Homo sapiens: one gene and its partners. The protein of the gene in region 4 purifies or fractionates together with the protein of the main gene of each other region. This does not show direct contact. Each region holds a gene or a part of one and is shown on either strand. Other genes may lie near its edges.

Region 1 (4,463 bases), on a different chromosome or scaffold from region 4:
CCCCGCCCTCACCCGCTCCCAGTCAGTCCCAGCCTCCACAGGGCTTGGCTGGGGGTCCGGGCTGGTGGCCCCCCTGCAGGAGGGCAGCATCGACTCTACCCTCGCAGGCACCCAGGACACTCGGTGGGGCAGCCCCACATCCCTGGAGGGTGAGCTGGGGGCTGTGGCCATCTTTCACGAAGCCCTGCAGGCGACGGCTCTGAGGACCCTGTGCACCCTGGGTATGCAGCATTCTCCATCTCTGCCACAGCCCCAGGCCAGAAGCTAGGGGTCCGGGGGGAGAAGGCATCTCTGGGGGTCTCTCCTGTGGTCAGGCAGTCTCTGGATGGGGTTTGGCCAGAGGCCTAGCAAGGTCTGAAGCCCCCTGCCCACCTCCCAGGGCCCAATGAGACGGCACCCTTCAAGCCTGAGGGGGAGCTGCATGAGCTCAGCACCAGGCTGCTCCTCCATTACTCACCTCAGGTATTTGGGGGCCCCAGGGGAGTGGTTGGCTCGACTGTGCTACTTCCCCGGCTCCCACACTCTGCCTGCCACCCCCTCCTCCCTCTGACCCTGGCTGCCTGCCCATTCCCCTATCCCTAGGCTTGTAAGAACAACATCTGCCTGGACCTGTCCCCCAGTCATGGGCTTGATGGGCGCCTGACGGGCCACAGAGTGGAGACCTGGGATGTGAAGGTCTGTGAGCACGTGTGGGTGGTGTGTGCAGGAGGCATGAATATGGGGCACATGTGTGTTCGGAGTCAGCTGGGGAGCAGCGCTGTGCCTGGGGAGGATTTGGACAGTCCAGCTCAAGAGAGCAAAACTTCCTTTCTGGGTGGTCTGCTGGGGTGGAGTAGGGCAGGAAACTGGCTGGAAGGTCCCCCTCACTGCCATCCTCCTTCCCCCAGGATGTGGTGAACTGCGTTGGGGGTATGGGTGCCCTGCTGCCCCTGCTGGAGCGAGTAGCTGCACAGCCCAAAGAGGCTGAAGCAGGTCCAGCTGAAACGCATGACCTCGTGGGTCCTGAACTGACCTCTGGTCACAACACCCAGGGCCTGGTTCTCCCATTGGGTAAATCTTCAGGTAAGTGTTCCTGGTGCCTATGTTGTGGAGAGGGAATCTTGGCATGGTAGGGGGGTGGAATGCCCAAGGTCTCCTGGCCACTGGCAGGCCCTTGACACACATCTGTCCCCTTCCTGATGGCTGGCAGAGGAACGGATGGAGAGGAACGCAGTGGCTGCTTTTCTGCTGATGCTGCGGAACTTCCTTCAGGGTCACATGGTGAACCAAGAGAGCCTGGTGCAGTGCCAGGGGCCTGCCATCATCGGGGCCCTCCTGCGAAAGGTGGGGCCCGGTGGGACAGGCATGGGGGTTAGGGGTATGGTCAGCCTGTCTGACCGAGGGGACTGAGTGGGGAACCCTGTCAGTCATGAAGAACCTCCTGGGAGAGTTGCCACTTGAGTGGGGCCTGAAAGGCCGAGCAGGGTTGGGTCTGGAGGATCTGGGGAAAGGCCCAGCACAGGTCGGGGCAGGGACCCGCACAGCAGGCAGGAGGCTTGCGTGTCAGAGGCGGCAGGAAGCCCCCAAAGGGTTCTGAGCAGGCTGGTGGCCATGTTTGTGGCCGTCATGGCTGTGCAGGGAAGAGTGGCAGCTGAAAAGCTCAGACAGCAGACAGGCAGAGCCTGAGCCCTCACTCCAGCTCCTGTCTTATCCCAGGTCCCAAGCTGGGCCATGGACATGAACGTGCTCATGTCCGCCCAGCTGCTGATGGAGCAGGTGGCAGCTGAGGGCAGCGGGCCCCTCCTGTACCTACTCTACCAGCATTTGCTCTTCAACTTTCACCTCTGGACCCTCAGTGACTTCGCCGTGCGCCTCGGTAGGTGTGAGGACCTGAGCAAGGGGCCGGCCATAGGGCAGCTGAGCACTGAGAAGTTAGAACTCTGCTCTGGGGGATCTGAGGGACTCACCTGTTAGGAATCCAGAATGCCATGGGGCGGCTGAGGGGACTATGACCCTGCCCTGGAAGTCTGACAGGCACATGGCCCTGGCCTGGAGGATCTGAAGGGCCCAGCTCAGCCTAGTGGCCTGAGCCCTCTGCTCATTCCCGCTCAGGTCACATCCAGTACATGTCCAGCATAGTTCGGGAGCACAGACAGAAGCTGCGGAAGAAGTACGGCGTCCAGTTTATCTTGGATGCTCTGCGCACCCACTACAGGTGAGGCCAGTGGGGCCAGATGGGCCATGGGGGGCTGACACAGTGGCCTCCGGCCTTGGGGACTGGGCGGTGCGCTTCCCTGACTCACCTGCCCACCCTCTCTCCCCGCCTTTCTTTGGGACCTGGCTGGGTGTGCCTACTGACCTGCCAGCCCGCAGCGGGAGCGCCCCCTGGCTGCTGACGACCTACGCACCGTGCAGACCTCCCTCCTGGGCCTGGCGAGGGAGTTCCTGGTGCGGAGTCTCTCAGCAGATGACGTGCAGGTCACGCAGACCATGCTGAGCTTTTTGGCGGCCACAGGCGATGACGGTCAGGTAGGCTGGAGGTTGGGGAGCGGGAGGCTTGGGTGAGGGGAGTGGGGGCCCGACACAGTGTGAGACCCTGCATCCCCAGGCGGTGGGTGCGCTGGACCTGCTGCTGGCCCTGCTGCACGGTTCCCTGGTGCAGGAGTCCTTGGCTGTCTTTCTGTTGGAGCCAGGGAACCTCGAAGTGCTACTGGCCCTGCTAGTGCGGCCAGGGTCACTGCCCCTGCTGCCCGATCGAGTCTGCAAGGTACACCCAGCCCACCCCCTCCCCTGGCATCCCATTCACTGGGGCCCCTGCCTGGGGTTCAGGGAGGTACAGCAGGCCTTGGGCCAGCGGATGAAGCTGCCTTCAAGGGCCTCTTGAGCCACACACCTGCACGGTGACTTCCCCTCCTACAGTAACTCCTTCCACATGATGACAGTCCTCCGATGACCCCCACACAGATCCTGCGCAGACTGCAGCAGAATGAGCGGCTACCTGAGCGGAGCCGCCAGCGCCTCCGGCTGCGGGAGTGTGGTCTCCAGGGTCTGGTTGCCTGCTTGCCTGAGGGGACTGTTTCCCCCCAGCTCTGCCAGGGCCTCTACAAGCTGTTCCTGGGGGCAGGTACAACCTGGTTAAGGCCAAGTGGAGGGGGTGACATGTCAGAAAAACAGGGCAGGCAGGCCGGAAGAAGGAAGATAGTGGCATAGGGGCCAGGGCTGGGCCCTGCCCTTTCTAGTCTGGTCAGTCCCTCAGGTCCCCCCAACCCATCCCCCCAGATTGCCTGAACCTCTCAGATCTGCTGGCTGTGGTACAGCTGTCCCTCCAGGCTGACCTCAGCGTTCGCCTAGACATCTGTCGCCAGGTGAGCATGAGAGGTAAAAGCTTTGGGGGAGGGGGAGGGTGGCTTCTACCCTCTGGCCTTCCACCTTGCCTGTCTCATGAGGGGTCTCTGGAGCCCTCCTCTGCAAAGGCCCTGGATGAGGGTCTGGAGCAGGCAGTTGGATGCGTCCTCACTTGCTGTGCTCTCGCCTGCAGCTTTTCCACCTCATCTACGGACAGCCAGATGTAGTGCGGCTTCTGGCCCGACAGGCTGGCTGGCAAGATGTGCTGACCCGGCTATATGTCCTGGAGGCTGCCACAGCCGGCAGCCCCCCTCCGTCTTCCCCAGAGTCACCTACCTCCCCCAAGCCAGCCCCACCCAAGCCACCCACTGAGTCACCTGCTGAGCCTTCAGATGTCTTCCTGCCCTCAGAGGCCCCCTGCCCTGACCCTGATGGCTTTTACCATGCTCTCTCCCCATTCTGCACGCCCTTTGACCTGGGCCTGGAACGGTCTAGTGTAGGATCAGGCAACACTGCTGGTGGTGGCGGCAGCAGTGGGACTCTTACTCCAGCCAGCCAGCCCGGCACTCCTTCGCCACTGGATGGGCCGCGGCCCTTTCCTGCTGCTCCTGGCCGCCACAGCTCCAGTCTCTCCAATGTGCTGGAGGACGGCAGCCTCCCGGAGCCCACCATTAGCGGGGATGATACCTCGAACACCAGCAACCCACAGGTGAGGTGGGCCCACCCTCTGCCACTGCATGGTACCCAAGGGAGGACACTTCTGGTACACAGGGCTGGCAGTGTAGCCTCTCCAAAGGTGTGGCCCTGTCTGACCAGGGTTGCAGCCACTGGTCAGGCCTATTGCTGTCCCCTCATAGCTCTCATCTGCAGTTGTGTTCCCAGAGGGCTCCTGGAACAGGGTGAGTCATGATGAGCCACAGTGGGTGACACCAGCCAGGCTTCAGAAGGGCCCTCAAGAGAGCCTGTAGGGCAGACACCTCACAGGGTCCAAGGGCAGCAAACTCCAAAGGCCCTGCCCTGGGCTTCTGGGTTTGGGGATGGGCCTCTGCTTGTTCTATGTGAACTGCCTCATCTCCTCTTGGGAGTCTGGCAAGACCCCAGGATTCTGCCTGGAACTCAGGTAGTAGTTGAGACCCCTA
Region 2 (4,463 bases), on a different chromosome or scaffold from region 4:
AATCACTCTTTTATTCTACATGGCCTAATTCACACTAATGACAAAGACTAGTTAAATTAGATTTCTATTGGTATCTACTTTTGTTTTTGGAAATAAGAGGGTGAATGGCCAAAATTTAAGGACCTTGAAATCATAACTAACTCAAAAATGTCCATATTGGTCAGGAGTAGTGGCTCACAACCTTTTTTTTTTTTTTTTTTTTTTTGAGACAGAGTCTCACTCTTTCTCCCAGGCTGGAGTGCCTTGGCATGATCTCAGCTCACTGCAACCTCTGTCTCCCAGGTTCAAGTGATTCTTCTGCCTCAGCTCCCATGCAGCTGGGACTACAGGTGCGTGCCACCACGCCCGGCTAATTTTTGTATTTTTAGTAGAGACTGGGTTTCACCACATTGGCCAGGCTGGTCTAGAACTCCTGACCTCAGGTAATCCACTCACCTCGGCCACCCAAAGTTCTGGGATTACAGGTGTGAGCCACCACGCCCGGCTGACTCACAATTTTCATCCCCGTGCTTTTGGAGGCTGAGACAAGAGGATTACTTGAGGCCAGGAGTTCGAGACTAGTTTGGGCAACATAGCAAGACCCTGTCCCTACAAAAAATTTTTTTAAAACTTAGGCGCGGTGTTGTGTGCCTGTAGTTGTAGCTACTCAGGAGACTGAAGCAGGAGAATCACTTGAGCCCAGGAGTTTGAAGCTGCAGTGAGGTGGGATCATGCCACTGTACACTAGCCTGGGCAACAGAGCAAGATCCTGTCTCTTAAAAATGTCCATATGAATGATCACTATATTCTTGTTACTTTAATCAAATTCTATATTTGTTACTTTGAATTTTGAATTCCAAATGAGGCAGATTAATTTATATAGGTACTATAAATTACATGGCAATAGTTTCCTAAGTCATTTGCCTTGGTTCATGAAACTGGTTAGGTATTGCTATTTCATTATGGTGATTTAGCAGAACATTGTGAAAGCAAAAATTGTTTTGAACAGGAACTCACATTTGTTCAGAAATAGAAGAGAGTGAGTGGTTAGGCACTGGAGGTGGTGTTAAAAAAAAATAGAAGAGTTAAAGTTTTGAAATAAAAAGAAGCCTGCCAGATTTGTTTATAGATAAAGATTCTTTTCATAAAAGCAGATGCAGTTGATTCCCTGGTTAGGGGAATATTTTTATTAAAATAGTAACCAGTACCATTACTGAATGCCTCCCGAATACCATGTACTGTACTTAAATCATCTCCAATCCTTTTGACAACCTCGTTCTCACTTTATAGATAAGAAAAATGAGGTTCACAGAGGATAAAAAACTTTTCCAGGTCACACTAGGTAAAGGAGATATTGGAGTCTGCAGTCTTGACTCATTATTTTCACACTTCCAACTCATGGCCTTGACCCTGACTTTTCACTCTGCTTTGGATGTTCTTCCCCCATATTTTGTCAAGTGTTGCTTTCTTGTCTCATTGAAATCTGGTCGAGGGAAATTAGAGGCTTATCTAAAATATCTCACATATCTCCTCCCTTTCATTCTCTTGCCCTGTATTTTATTTTCTTTATAGAACTTATTACTACCACAAATAATTACATTTTTATTTGTTTACTGTCTCTTCTCCCCTCAACCCCCATGATAATGCAGGCAACATGAGGGCAGATTTTTATCTGTTTTGTTTGTTGTTGAATCTAGTTCTTAAACAATGCTCAGAATATAGAAGGTACTCTTATTTGTTAGGGGGAAAAGATCGAACATGAATCATTATTCCATGAACATATTTTTAGAGTCCTTACCATTTGTTCAGCACTGTGCTAGATTACTGAGTTCTGTTTAAAGCCTTTTACTTTGAGTAGTCTTCAGTTAGCTCAGTCTAGTTTTTTCAGACTCCTTTGGTTTCTTGGTAGCCATACTCTTGCCTGCTTTATTGCTTTCATTTGTACAATTTTGTTTCATTTTCTTGCAAGACACACTGAAATCTCAACGTTTCTATGGAAGGTGTGGTACCCTCCCACATCACAAATTATTTTTACCCTCTATTCTGCTTAGTGAGGCCTAGCCTAAGCACCCTATCTATCTAAAGTAGTCTATGCCTGTTTGTCCCACTCTATCCCCTTGACCTTCTTACTTAGCACTATTGCTACCTGAAAGTGTAATATATATGGTTCATTGATTATTGACAGTCCCTCCCATTAGAATGTAAGATCTGTAAGGTTAGAAATTTTACATTATCTGTGTATCTCTAGTGCTTAGAACAATATATTCATGGAATAAAATAATGATCGAATGAGAAATACCCATGTTATATGAGATATCTGAATACCTAAATTTATAATATCTATACTTGAATCCTGATTATGTCCCTTCCTTAAGTAAGTGCTTTACTCTGACCCCCTTGCTTCCTCATTTCCAAAATGAGAATAATATTAATAAAATCTACCTTGTATAGTTGTAAAGATTAAGGATGTGTAACTCAGCACAATAATCTGGCTTAAGCATTCAGTAATTAGTTTCTACTAAGTTCTTTATTACTCGAATTTTATGTTGTACCATCTAGCAAGGTACATTAAGTATATTCAATAAATACGTGTTTTATTATATAAACCTCTTATTTCTTTCATAATCTTTGGGAGTTTCTTGATTTCCCCTTTGGAATCCCTTATAACGTCTGTTTCTGTTTTCCACTGAGAGTAAGCACTTAATATTTGTTGTCATCATAATTAAAAACAAATATAAAATGTTTAAGCATTTGTAAGATAGCTGATAATTGAAAGACACTGTTAAGCAAAATAAGAGTAGATGAATCTAAGTAATATATTACAAATTGGAAACGTCTAATACTAAATCTTTTCTATATATTATCAAACTGCTCTTTGTATTTAAAGATTCAATTTGTGTCTGTACATAAATTTCTGAATTCAAGGTCCTGGGATAACTGGAATCTATGAATTTAACATTGGGGAAGAAATATTGCTTGTAAAAAATTATGCTAATAAGTTATTGTATCATTTAAGGATATTTTATTTCAGAAAAAAAGTACATGGGTATTATGTATTAGTATTGTATTTATTACACATTTATACATTGAAAGGGGTTAAAATTTAGAGATATTTCAAATATTGAAAGTTTTCCCCAGAAATCTTTTTTCACGTTTTTATTTATCCAAAATAATTGTACTTCTGTCTCTTAATTAGGGAGATATGCAAACCAAAATACTTAAATAAGACCTCAGTACGTCCTGGCCTGAAGAACTGTGGAGATGTTAATTGTATTGGACGGATTCATACATACCTCGAATTGATAGGAGCAATCAATTTTGGATGTGGTAAAAATAAAAACCCAACAACATCTTTTACTCGACATTTTTTATCCTTACAGCACTTATTCATTTCTATGATGGTTAGAATTCAAGTAGTTATAGGTATATAGAATTCAGAGGTGCTGTAACATTATTTAATAAATGTTTTATTAAGATTTTACTGTTGGTTAAACTGTGTTTTCATTTGACCTACACTGAAAATTGAGAGTGTAACTTTAAAGGTAAAATATTCAATCTAAGTAATAGAAATAATTTAAGAATACAGTTCTTTAGCAGATAAAAGTAAAATTATTTTATGAAAAGTCTAATAATAGCCCATTTAATTTGCAAATACTGTATTCATGCTAGAAATACTACCTAGCAATGTTTAAATAAAGGAAATAATTTGTGAGCCTCTACACTTACATGTGATAAAAGCGTCAAAATATTTTTTGTGGAAGACAATTGTACCTTAGTTTTTTTCAAATTTAAAGTTAATGAATATACATATTTTAAAATATATTCTACTCTTTTTTTTTTTTTTTTTCTCGCTCTGTTGCCCAGGCTGAAGTGCAGTGGTGTGATCTCTGCTCACTGCAACTTCCGCCTCCCGGGTTCAAGCGATTCTTTTGCTTCGGTCTCCAGAGTAGCTGGGACTACAGGCGCATGCCACCACACCTGGCTAATTTTTGTATGATTAGTAGAGACGGGTTTCACCATATTGGCCAGGCTGGTCTCGAACTCCTGACCTCGTGATTTGCCCGCCTCAGCCTCCTAAAGTGCTGGGATCACAGGCGTGAGCCACCGCGCCTGACCTCTACTCTTTTATTGAATTAAAATGACACAACCATTCATAGCTACAAAGTGATAAGGTACATAAAACCTTGTAACCCATGGTTTAAGAAGAGTATATTCTGTGTTTGTCTATGAAAGGGAGACAACTAACAAGAAGATTTTCTGTCAGATATGATTTTCTTTTATATTGAGCTAGATAGAATTTAGTTTGCCCGGGAATCTGTCCTTCATTTCAGTGTCTTTGTTTTCCCAAAGCCTTGAATATTGAGACTAGCTTTTCAGGAAAACTAAAGGATTTTTGCTTCCTCAGCCACCAAAAGAAAAATTAAATCATGTTTTCTGTATTAGACTGCCAAAGTTAGCAAACTACCCATTTTCTAAATATTCCA
Region 3 (4,463 bases), on a different chromosome or scaffold from region 4:
GATAGAGGGATCGCTCTAGTCTTAATGGACCATGGTTTTCTGTAGATGAAGTTACACAGATTAAAAAGCATTTGTGATCATAAAGTCCAAAATGTTCCAACTGATAAATAACTGACCCCTTGGTTTCTGCAAAGTCTCTGAGGAAAATCCATGAAAAAGGGCTTTTAAACGTAAGATTTATTTCATTTACTTTATTTTTGAGACAGAGTCTCTCTCTGTCACCAGGCTGGAGTGCAATGGCGCCATCTCGGCTCACTGCAACCTCCACCTCCCGGGTTCAAGCGATTCCCCTGCCTCAGCCTCCTGAGTAGCTGGAATTACAGGCGCACACCACCACACTAGGCTAGTTTTTATAATTTTAGTAGAGACAAGGTTTCACCATGTTGGCCAGGCTGGTCTCGAACTCCTGACCTCAAGTGACCTACCCGCCTCAACCTCCCAAAGTGTTGGGATTACAGGCGTGAGCCACTGCACCCGGCCAGTTTATGCTTTTAAATATTTATTCATTTTGATCAGGAACAGGAAGTTTCTGTAATCTAGAGGAAGAGAAAATCTGTTCACATCGGGATTAAAAAAAAAAAAAAAAAACAAAAACAGGCCAGGCACAGTGGCTCATGCCTGTAATCCCAGCACTTTGGGAGGCTGAGGTAGGCGGATCACCTGAGGTCAGGAGTTCGAGACCGGCCTGGCCAATACGGTGAAACCCCGTCTCTACTAAAAATACAAAAAAAATTGCCCGGGCTTGGTGGTGAGCACCTGTAATCCCAGCTACTCAGGAGGCTGAGACAGGAGAATCGCTTGAACTCGCGAGGCAGAGGTTGCAGTGAGCCGAGGTGGCACCACTGCACTCCAGCCTGGGGGACAGAGTGAGACTCTGTCTCAAAAAACAAACAAACAAAAAACAAACTACAATCTTCCTTTTGGATTTTATTCCTAGAGTGAGATGCTACAGCAGTCAGGAAGTTGGGTCTCTAATGCAAGTGAAGTAGAAAGGAAAAAATCTGTCAACAATATATTTCCCCAGCTGAACAGCAGTAAGTTATCCAGAAGTAAATTAACTCCCCAGTTAAGGTATAATTCAGTTCTCTAGAAAGATAGTTTCTCTCTTGGAGAGATTTTATAAAGTCTTATGGTGACTAGATAAATAAAAGTTAATTATTAAAGAAGAAAATATATCAAGATGTTAATAATGTTAATGTCTGATGGGGAGATTATAGATGATTCTAACTTTTTCTATATACTTTTCATATATTCCACAATTTTCATAATCAGCATATATTTATAAGTAAAAAATAAACATTATATTGGGGAAAAATAGCTTGGGTTTAAATAGCTGTTTCCTTCCAAAGAATTATCAGAATTATGGCAGGGCATGGTGGCTCATGCCTGTAATCACAGCACTTTGGGAGGCCAAGGAGGGTGGATCACTTGAAGTCGGCAATTCGAGACTAGCCTGGCCAACATGGCGAAACTCTGTCTCTACTAAAAATACAAAAATTAACTGGACATGGTGGTGCACACCTGTAATCTCAACTGCTCGGGAGGCTGAGGCACGAGAATCACCTGAATCCGGGAAGTGGAGGTTGCAGTGAGCTAAGATATTACCACTGCATTCCAACCTGGGTGACAGAGCAAGACTGTCTCAAAAAAAAAAAAAAAAAACCCAAAAAACAAAAAGTTTTATCAGAATTACAGCTGTTATCCCTCCCCACTCCCCACCCCCAGGTCATCAAAAATATTGCTTTAAGAAGGTTTCAAACTAAATCATACATTCTAGTCATTCCAAGAAAATGACTCTCTGGAGGGTCCTATGACACCACTGTAACGTACCTGCCCTCCAGCTGCACACGCAGCCACTAAGCCATACTGGCCTCCTTCTTTCCGTAATCTGTTGGCAGCAGCCATGACCAACCTGCAGCCAGTGGCTCCAAATGGGTGTCCCAGGGACAGAGATCCACCCCAGTTATTAAACTTCTCCAAAGGAGGCAATCCAACCTGGCTCCCCCAAAGACACAAATGTAAAGATAAGTTTACTTAAGATCAGAATCAAGCTAGGCTCTTAGTACTACGAAGTAAGAGAGATAGAGGAAAATACGTAACGTCAGACATATTACAAATAATTTTACTGCAAAAGAAAGTAAGTCTAGGTCAATATTAAAAGTCAGGAGTCCATTTATTTTTCATCTAATGTCAGAATGCAAGGAACAAAAAACACAGAATTTTATTTTTGCTAAATAATTTCTATTTTTAAACTAAGAAATAAATATATTTAATGAAATACAAGAATTTCTACTTTTACACTAAGAAATAAATATCTTTAATGAAAGACAAAATTCTTCAAAAGAAAGAGAAGCTTTCCCTTCATATTCTTAAGAACAGGTAACTAAGATCCAATTATTAACGTGCTTTGAAAATTCACGCATTTTTTAAAATTAGAAACTCACCTTGGTTTTTCTACCCATGTAGTTTTCTGCAAACCAATCAGAATCCATGGCTTTAAAATTTGCCAAAATCTGACCCTGGAAGAGAAAATAATCGAATAAGAACCTCGTTATTCATGTTCCTCTACGCTTTCTTATAGGAATGGTTTGTGAAAGTTTAACAACTTTAGGTATGGTTTAAAGTTGAACAAATCGGCCAGGCACAGTGGCTCACATCTGTAATCCCAGCACTTTGGGAGGCCAAGGCGGGTGGATCATCTGAGGTCAGGAGTTCAAGACCAGCCTGACCAATATGGTGAAACCCTGTCTCTATTAAAAATATAAAAAAAATTAGTCGGGCATGGTGGCAGGCGCCTGCTTGTCCCAGCTACTCGGGAGGCTGAGACAAGAAAATTGCTTGAACCTGGAAGGCGGAGGTTGCAGTGAGCCGAGATCGTGCCACTACACTCCAGCTGGGGCAACAGAGCAAGACTCTGTCTCCAAAAAAAAAAAAAAAAGTAAAGTTGAACAAATCTTTGTATCAGTTTTCAATGGCAATTTCCTAAAGAAGCAATTTGGTATGTTCTCCAACACTGTATGTGTGGCCCTTGCTTCCCTCCCCTCGGGCCCCTCCCAGCAGTGTGAATCAGTACTTAAAATATGCAGGTCCACTCCTGCTCTACTCACATCATAAACCATGCCTTGCTCTCTCCCACAAATATGGATGACATTTTTTATGACTATAGTCCCTTCATATGTGTCTTTCAAATTACTTACCGAGAAAGCTTCATGAAATTCAAAAGCATCAATATCATTCATGGTCAATCCTGCCTTTTCTAGAACTTTTGGAGTAGCATATGTTGGTCTGCAAAGAAAAAATAAGTAATATCTTAAAACTTTAATTTTTAAACTAAGAGCTCCTTCATATTCCCCAAACTGAGTTTTACATAGGTACTCTAATGTCTTTTCACTCATTCTTTGATTTTTCTGTACTGATTAATGAAATGTTAAAGATAAAATAGTGAAACTGTACAGACATGCCCTCTACTCTTATGTTGCAGAGTCAGAGAAATTGATAATAAATAAACAGTGAGGGATAAGGACAAGCTAATAACATGAAGAACTGGAAGAACAGAGTTCAAAGAGCAAGGCAAGGGAAAGGGCTTGACTGATGTGAACGTCACAGTGGAGGCTAGAGGCTACAGCCTTGTGAGGGAACGGAACAGAGTCTAAACATGGGGAGGCTTTTATAAAAGGCTATATTAGGAAGATTGTGTAGCAGGGTGTGTAGCCATATGAAAAAATGCATATGCTATCTTAATGAAAAAGAATATAAGTTGTGTGTGTCCATATATATATGTAAAACTTATAGGAAAAAAATGGAAAATAATCCAAAACTGTAACATGATATACCAATGGAAAGGATTACTACTATTTTATTTATTTATTTATTTTTTTGAGATGGAGTCTCGCTCTGTCGCCCAGGCTGGAGTGCAGTGGCGTGATCTTGGCTCACTGCAAGCTCTGCCTCTCGGGTTCATGCCATTCTCTTGCCAAAACCTCCCGAGTAGCTGGGACTACAGGCGCCCGCCACCACGCCTGGCTAATTTTTTGTATTTTTAGTAGAGATAGGGCTTCACCGTGTTAGCCAGGATGGTCTCAATCTCCTGACCTCGTGGTCTGCCCACCTCGGCCTCCCAAAGTGCTGGGATTACAGGCGTGAGCCACCGTGCCCGGCCAGATTACTATTATTTTTTTTAAAAAAACCACCACATAAACCAATTATGAACTCAGGGCTTAATATACTCTCAAACCAGTGTAATAAACAAATAAATAATAAACCAGTGTTAATCATTTATTAACCAGTATAATAAAACATAGGCAATCAAATACTTGTGATTATAGTCCAAGGATACAAACTGCTACCTACCCAAGTAATAGTTGATCTTTTGGATCCTGAGACACATACATAAAATCCCTAGGTAAAAAAATAGAGAGGTGAGCTTTGGTAATAAAATAAAGAAATCAGAGATGATTTGTTTG
Region 4 (4,463 bases):
TCCACGAAAGTAGATATGAGGCCCCTACATCAAGTTGTATCTGCCTCTGATTTGGACATTGAATTGGGTTGAAGAGCTTTCAGCCCAACTCAGGAGCCCAGGGTGAATGAGGCAGCTCCCAAAGACTGATGGTGCCCTTCTTCCTTCCTGATCCTCAGTTCAGAAGTTTATCAATGAAGACCGACTGCCACACTTGCTTCTCTACGGTCCCCCAGGGACAGGCAAGACATCTACCATCCTAGCCTGTGCGAAACAGCTATATAAAGACAAAGAATTTGGCTCCATGGTCTTGGAGGTAAATAAGATTGTTCTTACTCTACAAATAACTTAAGAGACTCCAGTCTCTTAATTTCAGTTCTGCTGGTTTTATTTTACTTTAAAAGTAAGTTGCCCCACGGACAGTTAGGAAAGAAGTAAATTTGAATATTTTAATTCCCTTTTTCCTATAATGGTCATTTTGGTCTGGATTAGCGTTGGTCAGCTAGAGGGCAGTTGTAGGGTTTGGCACCTTTTTCTTTGCTCTTGCCAACTTCTCCCCAAACCTTACTTTATGGTGACTTGGTTGCTGCCTGTCTGCCATGGCCCCTCTAGATCAATTCTCCACGTTTCTCCACCATATTCCTGCCTGGAAGGCTGAGCCCTACTGACTATAAGCTCACTTACCCTCTGGCTCCTGGTTGGGTTTGGCCAATAGGGGCCTTGGCAGGGGTGGGGGAAGGAAGTGAGTGATGCCTGGGCCTTCCCTGGGGGCTGACACAGGCTGGCAGCATGGCCCACCTGTAGGGTACATCTCACAGGTGGTACCTTTCCTGCAGCCCTCTCCAGGTGCCTACAGCCACTCCCTTCACTAAGCCCTTCAGGCTCAAGGGTGACAGGTATTGCATAGCCCCATGGTTTTCCTATATCACACCTTTAAAAAGATCTTGTTTAATTCTCTTCAAATTGCTGCATTTGAGTATGCCATCTGTATATTGCTGGGACCTTGACTAATATACTTAGATTCAAAAATCTGAGTATTGTCTATTGCAAGAAAAGTTTAACTTACTTTTTAGACGCAGGTCTCAGAACTTTGCTGCTACTAATGTCCTTATTTCAGTTTATTAAGAACTTGGTAACTTAGGATTGTGGTAGCTGAAATTTGTATCATTCTGCTCATACCAGAGGTGCTGTTCAGTGTAACCATACCAATTAATTATTTCTCCAATTTATGTCAGTCATTGTCCTCAAAGGGTGGGGGTAATATAGCCATCTTTATTAATTTAGTGAATTTTGTGTAAAACTGATTTTTTATTTTATGATGATCTCTTAGCCATCATTAGACATAGAGAGCTAGCCTGCTGAGCTGGACTGATGAGGAAATACACTAACACCAAGAACTCACAGATAGCACAGCAACATGGTTTTTGTTTTGTCTTCTGTCTTCCACATTTAGCTGAATGCTTCAGATGACCGAGGAATAGACATCATTCGAGGACCGATCCTGAGCTTTGCTAGCACAAGGACAATATTTAAGTAAGAATTATTTGTGTAATTTCGCTCCCTTGATTTTGATTAGTAAGATGATATGGGTTAATTTTTTAATCCTCTCCTTAGCCAGTTTATATGGGTTGAAAAAAAAAGTGACTTTGTCCAAAGCAACCATGGAAAAGAGATAAACGAGAGGGATGGTAGTAAGAAGCGTTATAATGCAACTGTTAAAATAAAATGTTATCTACGCTTGTATTAGCAAGTTTGTTTTTTTTTTCTTTTTTTTTTGGAGACAGGGTCGCCCTGTATCGTACAGGCTGGAGTGCAGTAGCATGATCTCGGCTCACTGCAACCTCCACCTCCTGGGTTCAAGCGATCTTCCAGCCTCAGCCTCCTAAGTAGCTGGGACTACAGTCGTGAGCCATCACGCCCAACTAATTTTTGTATTTTTTAGTAGACATGGGGTTTTGCCATGTTGCCTAGGCTGGTCTCGAACTCCTGAGCTCAAGCAATCTGCCCGCCGCAGCCTCCCAAACTGCTGGGATTACATACGTGAGCCCAGCCTGCATTACCAAGTTCTTTAGGGAGCATTAACTTCATTTTTAGTTCCTGAGAACTGGCTAGATTACCCTAAGACTGGATGAGCTAGTTTGAATTTAAAAATAAATTGAGATCAGGAAGGACAACTAGGATGGTGGCTAAAAAAAAAAAAAGAAAGAAAGAAAAAGGGTGAGGGCCGGGCGCAGTGGCTCACACCTGTAATCCTAGGACTTTGGGAGGCCTAGGCAGGTGGATCACCTGAGATCAAGGGTTCAAGACCAGCATGGCCAACATAGTGAAACCTCGTCTCTACTAAAAATACAAAAATTATCTGGGCATGGTGGTGGGCGCCTGTAATCCCAGCCACTCAGGAGGCTGAGGCAGGAGAATCGCTTGAACCCAGGAGGCAGAGGTTGCAGCGAGCCAAGATCGCGGCACTGCACTCCAGCCTGGGCAACAGAGCAAAAACTTAGTCTCAAAAAAAGCAAAAGGGTGAGGGACTCAGGCATGAGTGAGGGAGACGGGAAAAGCAGTAGCATGGTAGGGTGCCATGTGGAGGAAAGTGAAGATGCCAGAGGACACAGCGCACAGAAGTAGAGAAGTCTCCTCCATTCCCACCAAGGGTTGAAGGAGTGATGCGGCATTTCCTCTCTGAGTGACCAAAGATGTCTGCCTTGGCCAAAGTTCTAGAAGAAATTGTCTTTCTGAGACAGGGCCCGATGGCACAATGGGAAGATATAGGTTTGAGCCCAGATGTTGAGATGAGATTGAAGAAATCTTTAGACAGCACCATTTGTTTTTCTAGGAAAGGCTTTAAGCTAGTGATCTTGGATGAAGCAGACGCCATGACTCAGGACGCCCAGAATGCCTTGAGAAGAGGTAAGCAGAGGCACTGTGGAGCGTTTGGGCTGGTGTGCACACTGGAAGGAGAATTAGGAACTTTGTGTTTGTTGCTGTTGTCATTGTTTTTTTAGGCGGGGGGGAGTTTTTTTTTCTTTTTTTGAGTCAGAGTCTTGCTCTGTCACCCAGGTTGGAGTGCAGTGGCGCAATCTTGGCTCACTGCAGCCTCTGCCTCCTGGGTTCAAGCGATTCTCTGACCTCAGCCTCTTGAGTAGCTGGGATTACAGGCATGCACCACCACACCCGGCTGATTTTTATATTTTTAGTAGAGATGGGGTTTCACCATGTTGGCCAGGCTGGTCTCGACCTCCTGACCTTGGGTGATCCGCCCGCCTCGGCTTCCCAAAGTGCTGGGATTACAGGAGAATTAGGAACTTTAAGCTTCCCAAAGTGCTGGGATTACAGGAGAATTAGGATGTGAGATATGGCTTGGCTTGTTTTCAGTTTTCATCTTCTGGCCCAGAGAAATCTCTATGCCTTTCTCTGTGTCTCCCATCTAATGACACAGGCTAGATACCTCTGTAGCGGGACTTCCCCTTCAGCAGCCTAGGGACTAAGCCCTGCGGGGACTTTTAAGTCTGGCCAGTCACTGGTGTTCAACCTCCTTTGACACTGGGTTCAATTTCAGAGTTGGGAATTCATATCTTTCCGTGGGATGGGGTGTGGAAAATCTTTCATCCTTAAGCTATCAGATAGTCCTTCTGCTAATAGTACCCTCTCCTTTCTACTAATGGTACCCTTTGAACCACAATGGCTAGGAAAAGCATATCTGAAGTTGAGGTGCTCAGAGAGCTGATATTACTTCACTGCTTGCCAAGTGAATGATTTGGCAGCGGGAGGGACAGCACCCTGCGATTTGTCTGTCTTCAGGGGCCTAGCGCAGTTCTTTTCTCTTAAAGGACACTTGTCATCTCTCATTAAGATTCCAAGTGAATCAGCTTTGAGAGAAGAACGATCTTTAGGAGTTTGTGGCGAGGGAGTAGATGGCAGCACATGTTAAGAGAAGGATGGGGGAAGGGGGAGGAGGAGGAGGGGGGAGGAGGGGAGGAAGAGGAGGGGGTGAGGAGGAGGAGGGGGAGGAGAAGGCGGAGGAGGAGGGTAGGGGGAGGTGGAGGAGGAGAGGTGGGGGAGGAGGAGGAGGAGGAGGACAGCGAGAATATCTTCTGGTCCTAGAAGCTTGGCAGCCTTTCTTCGGCATCTTGTTCTGCCGAGTGACTGTCATTCTGGGCAGATCCCCATGTGAGAACATTGGGTACCTACAGAATGGAACCGGTGTCATAAGCAACTCTTTGTTCGGGTTATTGCTCCCTTGAGTGCTCTAAGGCCTCCAGACAGTCTCCATGGAAAAGTCTGCAAAAAGCCGCCCTCCCTGCCCATAGAAGGTGAAGTGTCATCAACCTGCCAAATATAATTTTATGTAAAAGGACAAGAAGTCTCATAGTCTTAATGGGATTACATGGCAAAAGTGCCAGAATCATGGCAAATGGTAAAAAGGAAGCATTTTGTAAAATCCCACGGAGGCATGTTTACCAGTTTGTGAAAGAGGGGTGGCTAGG
Region 5 (4,463 bases), on a different chromosome or scaffold from region 4:
TTCTACCACACAAAAGAATCTAGACCTACCTTATCCAACACAATAGCCAATAATCACATGGGGCAATTACGTCCTTGAAATGTGGCTAAGCCAAATTGAGGTGTGCTGTAAGTATACACCACCACCAAATTCTGAAGATTTAGTTTTTTGTAAAAAGCACATTAATACTTTTTATATTTTAGATATATTGGGTTAAATACAAATGTATTAAAATTAGCTTAATGTTTCTTTTTACTTAAGAGTATGACTACTAGAAAACTGAAAATTATCTTTGTGTCTCACATTATCAATCCATTTATTGAACAGCAATGATATAAACAGCGGAATTAAGATATTGACTGTGAACATCTTTTTATGTTGCAAATGTTGCATTAGAAGAAATATATCACCTATTAAAATACTGGAATAATTAACTATCAAAGGTATATTATTAAATCCAAGTGCAAAACTCCATATACTATCTTTTATTATATTAAAGACAGGTACACTACTCTATCAAACACTGAACCTGTACTGAGCAAAAAACTAACCTGCTCATTCTGAATGACTTGGCAAATACAGGGTTTACAAAATACATGTGCACAATGTGTTATCACAGGAACTGTTAAAGAATCCAGGCAAATTGCACATTCCTCATCTGAACCTGAGCTCAGAATTAACTTCATCTTCCTTATTAACTTCTTTCTCAGTTCTTCAGGTGTATCATTTCCTAGAGAAAAGGCTGAAAAATTAATTTCAGAGCAAGGTTTGTAATATGACAAGTTAATCTATCTTATAAGGAAAAGTTTCGCTTGCCAGTAGGGAAAGTCTCTCATCATTTTCTGCCATAGGCAAAAAGCATAATTTAAATTTGAAATTTAAGAAACATTCAGAAGCCAAAATAGTAGCCAACTCACATAATATACCTCATAGAGAAGCATCATTATAACATGACAATAACATACCACCACACAATAAAAGGCAGATCCAATATGAATCTTTCATCAAAGGGTATCTATCACCGGAATTCCTGGAAAGACCTCATTATAATTCCATTTCATTGGTAAAAAAATTATTGGATGTATTCCTAGCTGAGTCTCACACTAAAAGCAATCTCCATTTGACAGAACAAAATAAACTAAATGTATGCCACATAAAAAAAATTTATCACTCTTATTTAAGTATCTCTGACAAATACAATGATATGAAGCAATCAAATTTACCTACCTGAGGGGCCATTGGAAGACACTGCATTTGTAAGAAGGTAAGTATGGCAACAAATTTGCCGCAGTCTAAGCAAAAGACCCAGGACATCTGCATAATGTGCCAGGACAGTCCCTTCATTAAAATACCTAGAGATTAAAATGTCAAATATTATTAAGTCCGCTAAACAATAATAACTTCCTATTCTAAAACAGCAGAGTAAAATGGCATTTTTCTTTTCTTCTCTAGAAATTACTCCAAAACAAGAATGAAAAGCAGAAAAGCAACTCTAATAAAACCAAGAGAGATCTATAACAATAAGGCACAATATATGAGAAATGGCTGCCAATTGCAGTCTAAGTCAGATAGGAAGATGCTGAGAGGGATGACTGCAGATCTCAAACAGAGCTGCCAAAACACAATTCTTTAAAATGGATGGCATGCCCTGAGGGGAAAATCAATACCTCTCATGTGCAGAAACAGGAACAGGGTGCATGCTTGGTGACTTGAGCTTCCATGGAGAAATTTATATCAAAAAAAGAGGGAAGGTAAACTGAATACAGAAACATACAGGTGCACTGTATTTTCAAAAAAAGACTATGGGCACAGCACTCTACACTCCAAGCACCCCTAAAGTTTCTGATCTCTGTTTATGTGTACTAATAAAACCTAAAGTAACTCAACATGTAACCCTGAGTCTTAAGTAAATTGGGTTATTTCCTGCTGGTCGGGGACATGATTGTGACCTTTCCCTTTTGTATATCTGGACTAGCAAATAGCTAGTCCAAGAAGAACTCAAGATATTCAAATATAAGTAATAATCAGCAGAGAGCAAAGGTAGGGGACACATGGCAGTGAAAGAAAACTCAGCAGAAAAATGTTGCCACAGAGCAAATAAAAATTATGACCAAGGATACTGTCACAATTTAACACCACTCAATAAAACAATTCCTCCAAAAAAAAAAAATCTTAAAGCAAAGACAAAGAGCTTTGAAAAAATATGGCAAGAGAACAGGAAGAGATGAAAGATGAGCTGGTATGGCTCAAGAAAGTGAAAGAAAACAGTGAATCATCAGAGAAATGAAAGTCACACTGAAACCAATATAAGCCAATATAAAAAAAGACTAGTCACTGATAAAAACATAGAAAAGGATGTAGGAAACAGGACTGAGAAAATCAAAATTAAACAAAAAAATGTAAAAGATCAGAAATAAAATGATACCTATGGAACACAGATAAAAGACATCTAACATACACAGAGAGAAATAAAATAATGGAACAGAAAACAATATTTAAAGAAAGCTTTCCAGGAAAGAGAAGGGGGGAAAAGCCTGGAATCTAAAGATTTAAATAATATCACATGTCCCAGGGGAAAGTCAACAAAGAAGTTGCTGAACTTCAGAGGGAAAAAAAAAAAAAAAAAAAAAACCAGGCTTCCCCACAGAAACATTCTATACAAAATACAGTGGTACAATGACAACATAGATTCTTAAGGAAATGGGTGATCCAAAAATTATATAACCAGGCCATCTGATATTTAAGTATTTTAAGGCAACAGAAGAAATATAGCCTAACGGCTAAGAGTACAAATTTTTAGAGCTAGCTGGTCATGAATTCAAAACCTGGCTGTGCCAATTTAATTATGTAACCTTGGACAGGTTGCTTAACCTATGTCTTGAGCTTCCTCAGTTCTAACAGTGGCATTGTAAAAGTACCTACCTCATACAACTACTGTTATTTAATTTAATACATGTAAAGTATTTAAAATAGTGCCTGGACTATATTAAGTGCTATACATGAATCTGTTGCTAGTATTAGTACTGGTAGTATTATGGCAACAAACATTTCTGAATATTCAAGAATGCAAGGAATAGGCAAAATAATACAAAGATTAAACTTACAAGCTCTAAACCAAAGTGCCAGAGTTAATCTGTCCTGTCACTCACTAGCTGTGTGACAACAGTGTAAGTCACCTAAACTGCTCTGTGCCTCAGTTTCCTCACTTATAAGATGTGGATAATTATACTGACCTAATAGGATTGCTGTGAATACATTTAAAGCACTAAGATCAATGTATAACACCTAGTGAGTGCTAAATAAATGTTAGTAAATATATAGCCTATTAAAAAGAATACTTTAAAAATAACTTATTTTCTGAGAACAGTTTCAATAAAGTTAATCTTTTTCAACTTTTTCAAATAGAATAACCTTTACTAACACTAATTATTCCCTGGCATGGTCATATCTTACTGATACTCAGCATTTCAATTTAAGAGATCTCTTTTGAGTGCCTACCATGTGCTAAATATTAGAAGCTTCCTTCCTCCTATTTCACCAGCCATTGCTATCTTCACAGTTAGATCTCTTTCACTTTACTCACTCCCTTGGTGATCTCATGGCTTTAATTACCATCCACACATAGCTGACTTTGAACTCGACTCTCCTATCCAACTAATTATTTGATATCTCTACTTGGAAAATTCACGGGCATCCTATGATCAATGTGTCCAAAACTGAGCTTCTGATCTTAGCTTAAAAAAATCTCTGCTCTTCCCATAGACCTGTCTTGGTAAACAGCAATTCCAGCCTTCCACTTATGCAGGTAAAAAGGCTTGAAGTTATCTTTGATTCCTCTTTCACATGCCATAACATATCAACCAGCAAGTTCTGTTGGTTCTACGTTCACAATTTAACAGAATCTAATCATTTCTCACTCCCTTTATCACTACTATGGTAAAAACCACCATCATCTCTTGCTTTGACTGCCACTGGTCTCCCTACTTCTGACCTTATTCCTATTCAAATAACCTAAATCTGAGCACAGCAGCCAGAGTGATCTTTTAAAAATATAAATCAGATTACGTCCCTCTCCTGGCTCAAAACCCTTTAAGGTTTCCTGTCATAAAAAGTAAAAGCCAAAGTCCTTGACATATGCGTTACATACCCCCATTCCAATAAATCTCTGATATCATGACTATTTTCTCTCGTTCATACTATCCAGCCACACTTGCTTCTCTGTTATTCTTCAAGCTCACCAGGCATGTTCCCAACTGGGAGCATCTACACTTGCTCTTCCTTCTGGCTGAAACACCCCTTAATCCCAATCTCCTTTAGATCTTTACCTATATATCATCTTCTCAGTGAGGTCTTCCTTAATACCCTACTAAAACAGCTTTGGCATTCCCCATCCCCTTTCGTTGCTTTATTCCTTAAAACTTAATCATGTTTTTAAATTATCTGTTTCTTCCCATTAAAATATAAATTCCTCGAGTGCAGGCATT
Region 6 (3,960 bases), on a different chromosome or scaffold from region 4:
CACATGAATTCTTAGAATACAGAGGAACAAGAAGGAATAATTCCTGTGCCATATGCGGACCAGGGCATAGGGTGAGTGGAGCACAGTGGGTTAGCCACTAAATGGCTTCAGTGAGAATTCTGAAAACTGTTCCAGTATAATTTTGGAGTAAATCCTTCTCCTGGACAGGTCAAAGACTGTGCTTTTTAAATGTCATTAGAAGGTAACAGCTTTTTGCCTCCTGCTTCCAGATGATTTCCTTTTGGTTAAAAACCAGAAATAGTATAAACCTCACAGGATGAAAGAACAGTCTTTTGATACAGGTGAGGTGGAGATCTAGATGAACTTACATAGTAAGTGAGGAGTACATTTCTTGGTCTTCTCCCTTGACCACTCCAAGTCTCTGATCTACCAGAGATGGCAGTTTATTTCCTCTGGAAGAAGCCAGTAATGGACACCTGTCTGTTGGCTTTGCCCAGAGCAGCAGTCCCTTTCTTGGGGCCCTTTCGTTCCTCTCTGGGTTCTTTTTTCACAGTCATGGCAGGGGGTCTGTGTACTGAGGATGTCTTCATGTTAAGCTCCTCTTCACTATCTGTGCAGGATTCACTCTCGTAGACTTTTTCAGTCACTGGTAGGATGAGAAAAAAATGGAACATGGGTGGGCTGAATCATTTACTCTATGAAGAAAATGGGATGTCTTGCTAACCCCAATCATTTCAGACTCTGATCAAGGCAAATATGCTTACTTAGGACTCAATCTTTCTCCCACTGGGAGATCAGATCTAGCCTAAGGTAGGAACTATGTGGGATCCTGAGCTCACACAGTCTCTATTTGATGCTTAGAATTAACGTTCACTTTTCTCCCTCACAGCTATATCCCATGCCTTTAAATGGCCCTTTATCAGTGAATTGCCTAAATCCTTTATTTGGGTCCTGGCCTATGCTGGCTAACTTCCTGAACTCTATATCCGAATTGTCTATATCTTAAACACTTACTTCTAACTCCATGCTTTGACTGGCTTCTTAAGTATCACCTCTCTGACCTACAATGCCTGCCTATTCCCGTTACTGGTCTTAAACTGCTGGCCTATTTGCCTGCCTCCATTCTGTTTAACCAAGGTCACCATGGACCCTCCTGTCTAGCTCTAACCTGATGCCACCCACTCTCTGCACATCCTAGGTACAGAGAATTGAAGATTAGTTACTCAACTGTTCGGTTCTTAGTTCTTAATGGCTGCAAATTAACCCAAAATTTAGTAGTAGTCTGTATCATGAAGGTTAACTATCTCAAGCAAATGCTATCGGATGACACACGTGTTAAAGGAATGACAGTGATAAATTGAGAAACAAAGTTACCAGTTTTCTTACTCCCTATCAGCCGAAGGCATAAATTGCTTTTCCCCTGCTATTAAAACTCACTGAACCCTTCCCAAGGGAAACTTGGAAAAGAACTGTAACAGTAAGCAGTCATTATGAGCAAGCCCCAAAGGACACAGGCACAGATAGTGGCTTCCAGCCATGACGTCACATAACCGAGGAGGATCTACACTACTGCAACACATATACCAACCACAAGAAACAGCATGCCACCTTTCTGTAATTTTAGAGAGCTGTGGCAGCTGTATAACCAATGCTATCTAAATTCTTTCTCAGCCTTCCTGGTTGCAGCAAGCGATAGAGAAACATTGAAGGAAAAGAGCTTGTTCTTAGCTGAAAAGCGTAACCTAATATGCATAATAAATGCTCAAATGATTAAAGTAAAAGGTTTTTTTTTCCATTAAAGAACAATGACAGTCTTGAGCTTTTATTGATAATTCTTTCTAATAAAATATATCAAATTGTTCTAGAGGCATAAGCTTTGGAATCAAATGTATGTGTGTCCCAATACCTACTCTGCTACTTAAGATATCATCTCAAACTTTACTGTGCATCAGAACCACCTGGAGGGCTTGTTAAAACATAGATTGCCAGATTCTGTTTCTCAAGTTTCAGACTCAGCAGATCTGGGGTGGGACCTGAGAATTTGCTTCTCTAACATGCTCCCAGATAATGCTGATGCTGCTGGTCTGGGGACCACACTCTGGGAATTAATGTTCTCTCCTTCCCTGTTTTAAATGTTGAAGTGCAATTGCCACTGGAGCATTCCGTCCCTCTTATCCAGCTAATCCCATTAAGGCTGCATAATCAACAATCCCTTCCCAGAGAGTTCCCAGAGTTTGTCTTTAATTTTGTAAGAGCCCAGAATTCACTTTGATGTTCACTTAGAGGCTAAAAAATACTGATAAATTTTAGATATATATTAAGTATTCTGAAAGGCCTTACTACTCAAATTGTGCTCCGCACACCAGAGGCAACAGAATCTCCCATGAGCTTATTAGGAATGCACTCTCAGTTCCCACTCCTGGCCTACTGATGCAGAATTTCAATTTTAGCAAGATCTTCAAGTAATGCACATAGCCGGCAAAGTTTGAGAAATGTTGCTCTAAGATAATTAGAGAATTCCCATGGCATACCTATTCGTTCAGCAATTAGACCCCAGAACACCACCTCCATCTCACATGCATCTTCAAAAGCATTATGTAACTGAATTAATGGGACAAAATTACGAGCTGTTATTTATTCAATATCTTAAATTAGAAAAGTCTGAAGAGCCATCTACAGATACAGAAAGGAAATTACTTTCTACTAGTTGGTGGTATAAGACTTTGCTCCTTCATAAGCTATATTCTGTACTCAAATGGCAGCATGTCTACATTATACTTCAGCATCAATTAGCTCATTATTTCATTACTTATTAATGAAATCAATGGCTGTCTCATTGCCAATTTTGTGTGAGACATTGCTCAGGGGAGTTAAAAAACAGTCAGGGCAGCACCAACAAAATTTCTTTAGCAGCATATTCAGTATACTGTAAGAACTAAAAGGAATATTTCTATATTCAAAGCTGTAGCTACCGCAAACCCCAGAAAAAAGGAGGTCTCCATTAAAAATATAGGGCCTTTATTTTAGCTGAACAACATGCCACTTTTCTGGGTTGCCATTAAAAAAAGGCAAACAAACCTGGTTTTCGTGGGTAACATCAGATTTCTTTTCCACTTAACTGCTTTGCTCTTAGAAACCCATTCCCTTGTCCAGAAGTCTACTCCAAACTTATCTCAGGGGCCCAACTACCCAATTTCTGCTGCAAAGTCACAAAGAGAGAAAGATGAGCTTTCTAAACCCATAGAACAAATCTGATCCAGCACAGGACAGGGCAAGCCCCCTATGCTGGTACATTTGGAACAGTCTGAGCAGAGAGAGGAAAGCAGAACTCCTTTGTTGGTAACCAAAGCCAAGATTCATTAGGTTGAGCTTGGACCAAAAACCTTTAAAAAAAAAAAAAAAAGTGCAATGTGAGCACAGTTTTCACTGCTGCATCCAAGGCTCTTAACAGTCCTGTCTGGAGACAGGAGTGCAAAAAAGTCCACATCACACACCTGGCCAAAACTCGAGTACTATATTTTAAACAAAGCAATAAATAATTACCCACAAATTCCCAATGAACTCTCACTCTCACAAAGACGTTTGACTTTTTTCTTTTGGGGCAGAAAGAGGAGGAAAAAACTGGCACCAATGTTTTTGTCCTCTTAAATTTAAAAAATGCACTGTTGAATTAAGAAATTCAACAGTAAACACATATATTATCACCCATGGCCAAACCAAGAGGCTTGAAAATGGCAACTATTAAAAGACTGAAAGCCAAAAAAAAAAAAAAAAGGAAGAAAAAGAAAAAAAAAAACCCATTCAAAGTCCAGAATTCACAGGTTCACAAGAAATTTGGCACTGAAAAGACAGAATTTCCACACGTAAAGAATTTTACTCCCCAATCACATGTTACAATTAAAATGGCAGAGGCCTTTTCAGAGGACTGGGAGGTGGGGAATAGTGGGACAGGGAGCACAGATGACAAAATGTCTTCACTAGTTTTAAGAACCTGGAAAG
Region 7 (4,463 bases), on a different chromosome or scaffold from region 4:
CAGCGGCTCGTAAGTCCTGTTGTTTCTTCTCCTTCCTTCCAAGTTTTCCGACTTGCTAGTTTAATGGGAACCTTGTGCCGGTATTGTGTAGATGTCAGGGGACAAGCCATTCCTGTTTTTAAAAGCTGTGATAAACTTAGTCATTGACTTGGTGAGAGGGCACAGTGTCTTGGGGAGAATCAATTTGACATCTCAAAGATTTCAGAAAATGCTTTTAGAAATAACAATCCTCCAGAATCTTCAAATTCTGAGTTACTTTAACACTTGGAGCCTGGAGAGCCAGATGCAGGGTCCACGGTGACCTCTGGATGCCAGGTTCGTCTTCCCCAAGAGCAGAGCCGTCACTGGTAATAAATACATAGAAGACACCACCGGTCACAGACTATGAAGTAACTCCTCTCAACCATAGAGAAAAAAAATTAGTTAGGGTGCTTCTGTGTCAGGCGTTGATTGCTTATAAAGGAAGAAAAAGGTAGCCGACTTCGTTTGTTCTGCTTAATGCTCTTCAGAAAAGCATCCTAATGATTTCAACCACCCCCAGTGGTGCTCTGAATATTAGCTGACTCATATTGAACAAAATTCTACATATGATGTATAATAGATTTACAAAGATGAAAAAAGAATTGTGCAAAAAGAAATAAAGCCAAAAAATCAACAAAAATTGTTTTTGAATAAAAAAGTGCTAGTTCTGTGGGTCAGAAGAGAAAAATTCAGTGTTTTGTACCGTAGCTCACCCAGATGCCACCTATAATCAGACAAAAATATGAGTTTCTATATGGATTATATAAGTGTCAGAATTAATGGTTTTGAACTGATTGTGAGGTACCAGTGCAGTAGGAAGAGTTACTAGAAGTGGAACAAGGAGTCTTGATTTTAAAAGAAACGTGGCTTTGCAGTGGATAAAGGAAAAATGCTCCAGAGAGCGCTCAAATCTGACATTGCAATGTTGCCAGCCCTTCCGGTTATTCTGTTTTTATTTAAATTCAAAAGACCAAGGCCAGGCACGGTGGCTCACGCCTGTAATCCCAGCACTTTGGGAGGCCGAGGTGGGTGGAACACCTGAGGTCAGGAGTTTGAGACCAGCCTGGCCAACATGGTTAAACCCCGTCTTTACTAAAAATACAAATATTAGCCGGGTGTGGTGGTGCACACCTGTAATCCCAGCTACTCGGGAGGCTGAGGCAGGAGAATCACTTGAACCCAGGAGGCAGAGGTTGCAATGAGCTGAGATCATGCCATTGCACTCCAGCCTGGGCCACAGAGTGGGACCCCGTCTCCAAAAAAAAAAAAAAAAAAAAGTAAAAGATCTGCACAGTCTAAGTGATGTTTAATAAATAAGTGTAAAAGAAATGATTGAGTATATTTAATTATCAACAGATTTTCTAGCTGCCCAAGAATTACTGAGAAAAGTGAATAATAAATAATGCTAGTTTGTTCCTCTTCATTATTTTCTTGCTATATGGTAGTATGTTGATGTGGAAGCCAAGTATTTAGAGCCTTTTGTTCACTGCAGAACACCTGTTCATTCAGACCTTTTGGCAAACCATGAATCGAGAATGGAAAGGAATAGACAGGCTACGCCTGGACAAATACTATATGGTAAGATCTGCCGCAGTTACTTCAAAAACTCCTGGGAAGAAAAGAATGTCCTTTATCTTAAAAACAATGGGAAGGTTTATTTGTGAAGCAAAACAAGCCACAGGCTTAGTGTGAAGGAAGAATTTGAATGTGTCCTGGAAAGCTTCTCTGTTTTGGCTTTTGCAGTTCTTAAGGATGAGTTTGGGGAGCATTAGTGAATACGTTGGGTATTTTTTGAGACAGAGTCTCTCTTGCTCTGCTCCCCAGGTTGGAGTGCAGTGGTGCGATCTCAGCTCACTGCGACCTCCGCCTCCTGGGTTCAAGTGATTCTCATGCCTCGGCCTCCTGAGTAGCTGGGATTACAGACGCGCACCACCATGCTTGGCTAATTTTTGTATTTTTAGTAGAGATAAGGGTTTGCCATGTTGGCCAGGGTGGTCTTGAACTCCTGGCCTCAAATGATCTGCCCACCTCAGCCTCCCAAAATGCTGGGGTTACAGGCATGAGCCACTGTTCTTGGCTATGAATATGTTTTTTGATCTAGAAGGTAAATATGACTGTTGTGAATATTTTTTTACTTTTGGGATCCAGGCCATAACAATTTCATTGGTCCCTTCATTCTGCTGAGCTGATTAATATTTCTTACCTTTCCTTTTTTTTTTTTTTTTTTTTTTTTTTAAACAAAAATTGCCTTTCTTTAGCTGATTCGTCTGGTCCTGAGGCAGTCCTTTGAAGTCTTGAAGCGAAATGGCTGGGAAGAAAGGTCAGTAAACCATTTGAGTTAGCATGTGGTAGCCTTAAAACTTAAAAGGTAGTAGAGTGTCAAGTTTTCTGAACTTGTAGAGTACCAATGAGAAGCTCGATACATCGTTACCTATAGAGAATTGAAATCCAGTAGAAGGCATAAAACAGTTAAGTATATATGACAGTTAACATTTTATCCTGATTTAAGTGATTGCTTTTTTCCTTGTAAAATGATTTCAGCCTTGCATTGATTGTTAGGCTGTGTAGGTTCTAGACGGAGTATTTTTGTTTCTCTTTGGGAAGTGGGACGTGTTGGCATACTGTCATTCACAGAAGCATGCGTTTGGTTCTTTAGCCGAATCAAGGTTTTCTTGGATGTCCTGATGAAGGAGGTCCTGTGTCCTGAGAGTCAGTCTCCTAATGGAGTGAGATTCCACTTCATTGATATTTACCTGGATGAACTCTCCAAAGTCGGGGGGAAGGAGGTAAGCAGCTGCCGACAGGCTGCCCACGGGGTGAGGGGGCCGCCAGTGTTCGCAGTAGTCGCCAGTGAAGTGCTGTGGGGTGGCCCTTCGCATGACCAGCGACTGTAGCAGCGTGAATTGCTTCAGTCCTGTCTGGGAATGTGTCCTAAGCAGCTGGTGGGATGGGATTTGTGCACTGAGGATGTACATGACAGTCTTACCTGTAAAACGGAATTGAAAGCAACCTACAGACTCCACTAAAGAACTCACTAACACGGGGGAGTACTCAGGATCTAGGGAGCTTTATAAAGCGCTAGGAAAAGCTATGCAAATGGTAGACATTTTTAAGGTATATACTCATAAATAGACAAAAGGCTGGAAAGGAAACATACATTTTTTAGTATGCAAATGATTCTCTGAATGTGGGAATGTGCACAGATTTTACTTTTCTTTCACAGGTGTTTTGCAGGGAACATGTATTTTTTTGATTAAAAGAAAATATGTTATATTCAAAACAATAATTCTTTTGTCTCACACTTGGAGGCACTGTCCCTGTTACCCCTCTTGTAGAGGAAGTATATGTATGTCCTGTATCAGGTTTGTCCAGCCCGCAGCCTGAGAGCTGCATGGGGCCCAGGGCAGCTTTGAATGTGGCCCAACACAAATTTATAAACTTTCTTAAAATATGAGGGGTATTTTGCATTTTATTTTATTTTATTTTATTTTATTTTATTTTATTTTATTTTATTTTATTTTTAGCTCATCAGCTGTTGTTAGTGTTTGTGTATTTTAGGTGTGCCCCAAGACAGTTATTCTTCCATTATGGCTTGGGGAAGTCACAAGATTGGACACCCGTGTTGTATATGTTGGGCATATAGGATAGTGCAGGTCAGGCTGGGTGGCTTTCTCCAGCCACTGCACTAAGATACCAAGTAGCTGGAGGGCGGCCTCAGTCTTCAGCCTGGCTCCAGGCTTCTGTGGCATTCCACAGGGGCGCTTTGGGGCTGTGTGAGACAGGCATTGCTTGGTCTAACTCCACCTTTGTAAAAGATGGGAATGGTCCCTTTTTCAAGGACATGTCAAGAAGGGAAAGGCTCTTTCTCAATTTTTCCCTTTTTCTAAATTACAGCTTTTAGCAGATCAGAATCTCAAGTTTATCGATCCATTCTGCAAAATTGCTGCGAAGACGAAGGAGTAAGTGATTCCCCTGTTCGTTCCTCCTGCTCCGTGGCATTTGCTCATGGGAGTTACTTGCCGTCGTGCAGCCTGGCACAGGGTACCCAGGACACTGCTTCACAGCAGAGAGCGGCTGGAGAAGACAGCCGAAGCTTTGAGCAGTGATTTGGCTCTTCTAGCTTCAGTATTTGCCTCACTCATTCCAGGAATGCCCTCCCACACCCAAAGATCTGACCGCTGGGCGTCCCGTGCCTGTCGGGTGGCACTTAGGCAGTTCCTCTCAGATGCTTGCTGGCCCGTGGGGGCCACTCCAGACCACAGCAACGTGTGCAGGGCTTCCCTCTGTGCCCCTGAAGCCAGAAGGCCAGGCCGTTTGTTCTCATCACATGCTCTCCGCTGTGCTTCTACCCTCAGCCACACCCTGGTACAGACCATAGCTCGGGGTGTCTTCGAAGCTATCGTAGATCAGTCTCCTTTTGTGCCTGAAGAGACGATGGAGGA

The links.
Region 1: the proteins of RFC5 (region 4) and NBEAL2 purify together in Homo sapiens (tandem affinity purification; one large-scale study listed by IntAct). This does not show direct contact.
Region 2: the proteins of RFC5 (region 4) and MYSM1 purify together in Homo sapiens (affinity purification with western blotting; one study listed by BioGRID). This does not show direct contact.
Region 3: the proteins of RFC5 (region 4) and HADHB fractionate together in Homo sapiens (co-fractionation; one large-scale study listed by BioGRID). This does not show direct contact.
Region 5: the proteins of RFC5 (region 4) and HLTF purify together in Homo sapiens (affinity purification with mass spectrometry, with the first as the bait; one large-scale study listed by BioGRID). This does not show direct contact.
Region 6: the proteins of RFC5 (region 4) and POLD3 purify together in Homo sapiens (tandem affinity purification; one large-scale study listed by IntAct). This does not show direct contact.
Region 7: the proteins of RFC5 (region 4) and RRP1B purify together in Homo sapiens (co-immunoprecipitation; one large-scale study listed by IntAct). This does not show direct contact.

Annotation. Positions count from the first base shown.
Region 1 is NC_000003.12:46,996,372-47,000,834, forward strand, and holds part of NBEAL2 (neurobeachin-like protein 2), read left to right. Parts: coding exon 1-221; intron 222-379; coding exon 380-462; intron 463-582; coding exon 583-675; intron 676-887; coding exon 888-1,062; intron 1,063-1,189; coding exon 1,190-1,323; intron 1,324-1,695; coding exon 1,696-1,855; intron 1,856-2,091; coding exon 2,092-2,194; intron 2,195-2,345; coding exon 2,346-2,508; intron 2,509-2,587; coding exon 2,588-2,746; intron 2,747-2,898; exon of another isoform or gene 2,899-2,928; coding exon of another isoform or gene 2,929-2,943; coding exon 2,944-3,103; intron 3,104-3,258; coding exon 3,259-3,344; intron 3,345-3,517; coding exon 3,518-4,033; intron 4,034-4,463. UniProt on the Homo sapiens protein: Probably involved in thrombopoiesis. Plays a role in the development or secretion of alpha-granules, that contain several growth factors important for platelet biogenesis.
Region 2 is NC_000001.11:58,675,769-58,680,231, reverse strand, and holds part of MYSM1 (deubiquitinase MYSM1), read left to right. Parts: intron 1-3,175; coding exon 3,176-3,306; intron 3,307-4,463. UniProt on the Homo sapiens protein: Metalloprotease with deubiquitinase activity that plays important regulator roles in hematopoietic stem cell function, blood cell production and immune response.
Region 3 is NC_000002.12:26,282,939-26,287,401, reverse strand, and holds part of HADHB (trifunctional enzyme subunit beta, mitochondrial isoform 1 precursor), read right to left. Parts: intron 4,399-4,463; coding exon 4,351-4,398; intron 3,286-4,350; coding exon 3,198-3,285; intron 2,520-3,197; coding exon 2,445-2,519; intron 1,996-2,444; coding exon 1,831-1,995; intron 1-1,830. UniProt on the Homo sapiens protein: Mitochondrial trifunctional enzyme catalyzes the last three of the four reactions of the mitochondrial beta-oxidation pathway.
Region 4 is NC_000012.12:118,019,474-118,023,936, forward strand, and holds part of RFC5 (replication factor C subunit 5), read left to right. Parts: intron 1-158; coding exon 159-295; intron 296-1,432; coding exon 1,433-1,512; intron 1,513-2,812; coding exon 2,813-2,886; intron 2,887-4,463. UniProt on the Homo sapiens protein: Subunit of the replication factor C (RFC) complex which acts during elongation of primed DNA templates by DNA polymerases delta and epsilon, and is necessary for ATP-dependent loading of proliferating cell nuclear antigen (PCNA) onto primed DNA.
Region 5 is NC_000003.12:149,040,960-149,045,422, forward strand, and holds part of HLTF (helicase-like transcription factor), read right to left. Parts: intron 1,332-4,463; coding exon 1,207-1,331; intron 722-1,206; coding exon of another isoform or gene 710-721; coding exon 531-709; intron 1-530. UniProt on the Homo sapiens protein: Has both helicase and E3 ubiquitin ligase activities. Possesses intrinsic ATP-dependent nucleosome-remodeling activity; This activity may be required for transcriptional activation or repression of specific target promoters.
Region 6 is NC_000011.10:74,637,211-74,641,170, reverse strand, and holds part of POLD3 (DNA polymerase delta subunit 3), read right to left. Parts: intron 608-3,960; coding exon 405-607; 3' UTR 1-404. UniProt on the Homo sapiens protein: Accessory component of both the DNA polymerase delta complex and the DNA polymerase zeta complex.
Region 7 is NC_000021.9:43,672,357-43,676,819, forward strand, and holds part of RRP1B (ribosomal RNA processing protein 1 homolog B), read left to right. Parts: coding exon 1-9; intron 10-1,513; coding exon 1,514-1,599; intron 1,600-2,279; coding exon 2,280-2,341; intron 2,342-2,677; coding exon 2,678-2,807; intron 2,808-3,915; coding exon 3,916-3,980; intron 3,981-4,376; coding exon 4,377-4,463. UniProt on the Homo sapiens protein: Positively regulates DNA damage-induced apoptosis by acting as a transcriptional coactivator of proapoptotic target genes of the transcriptional activator E2F1.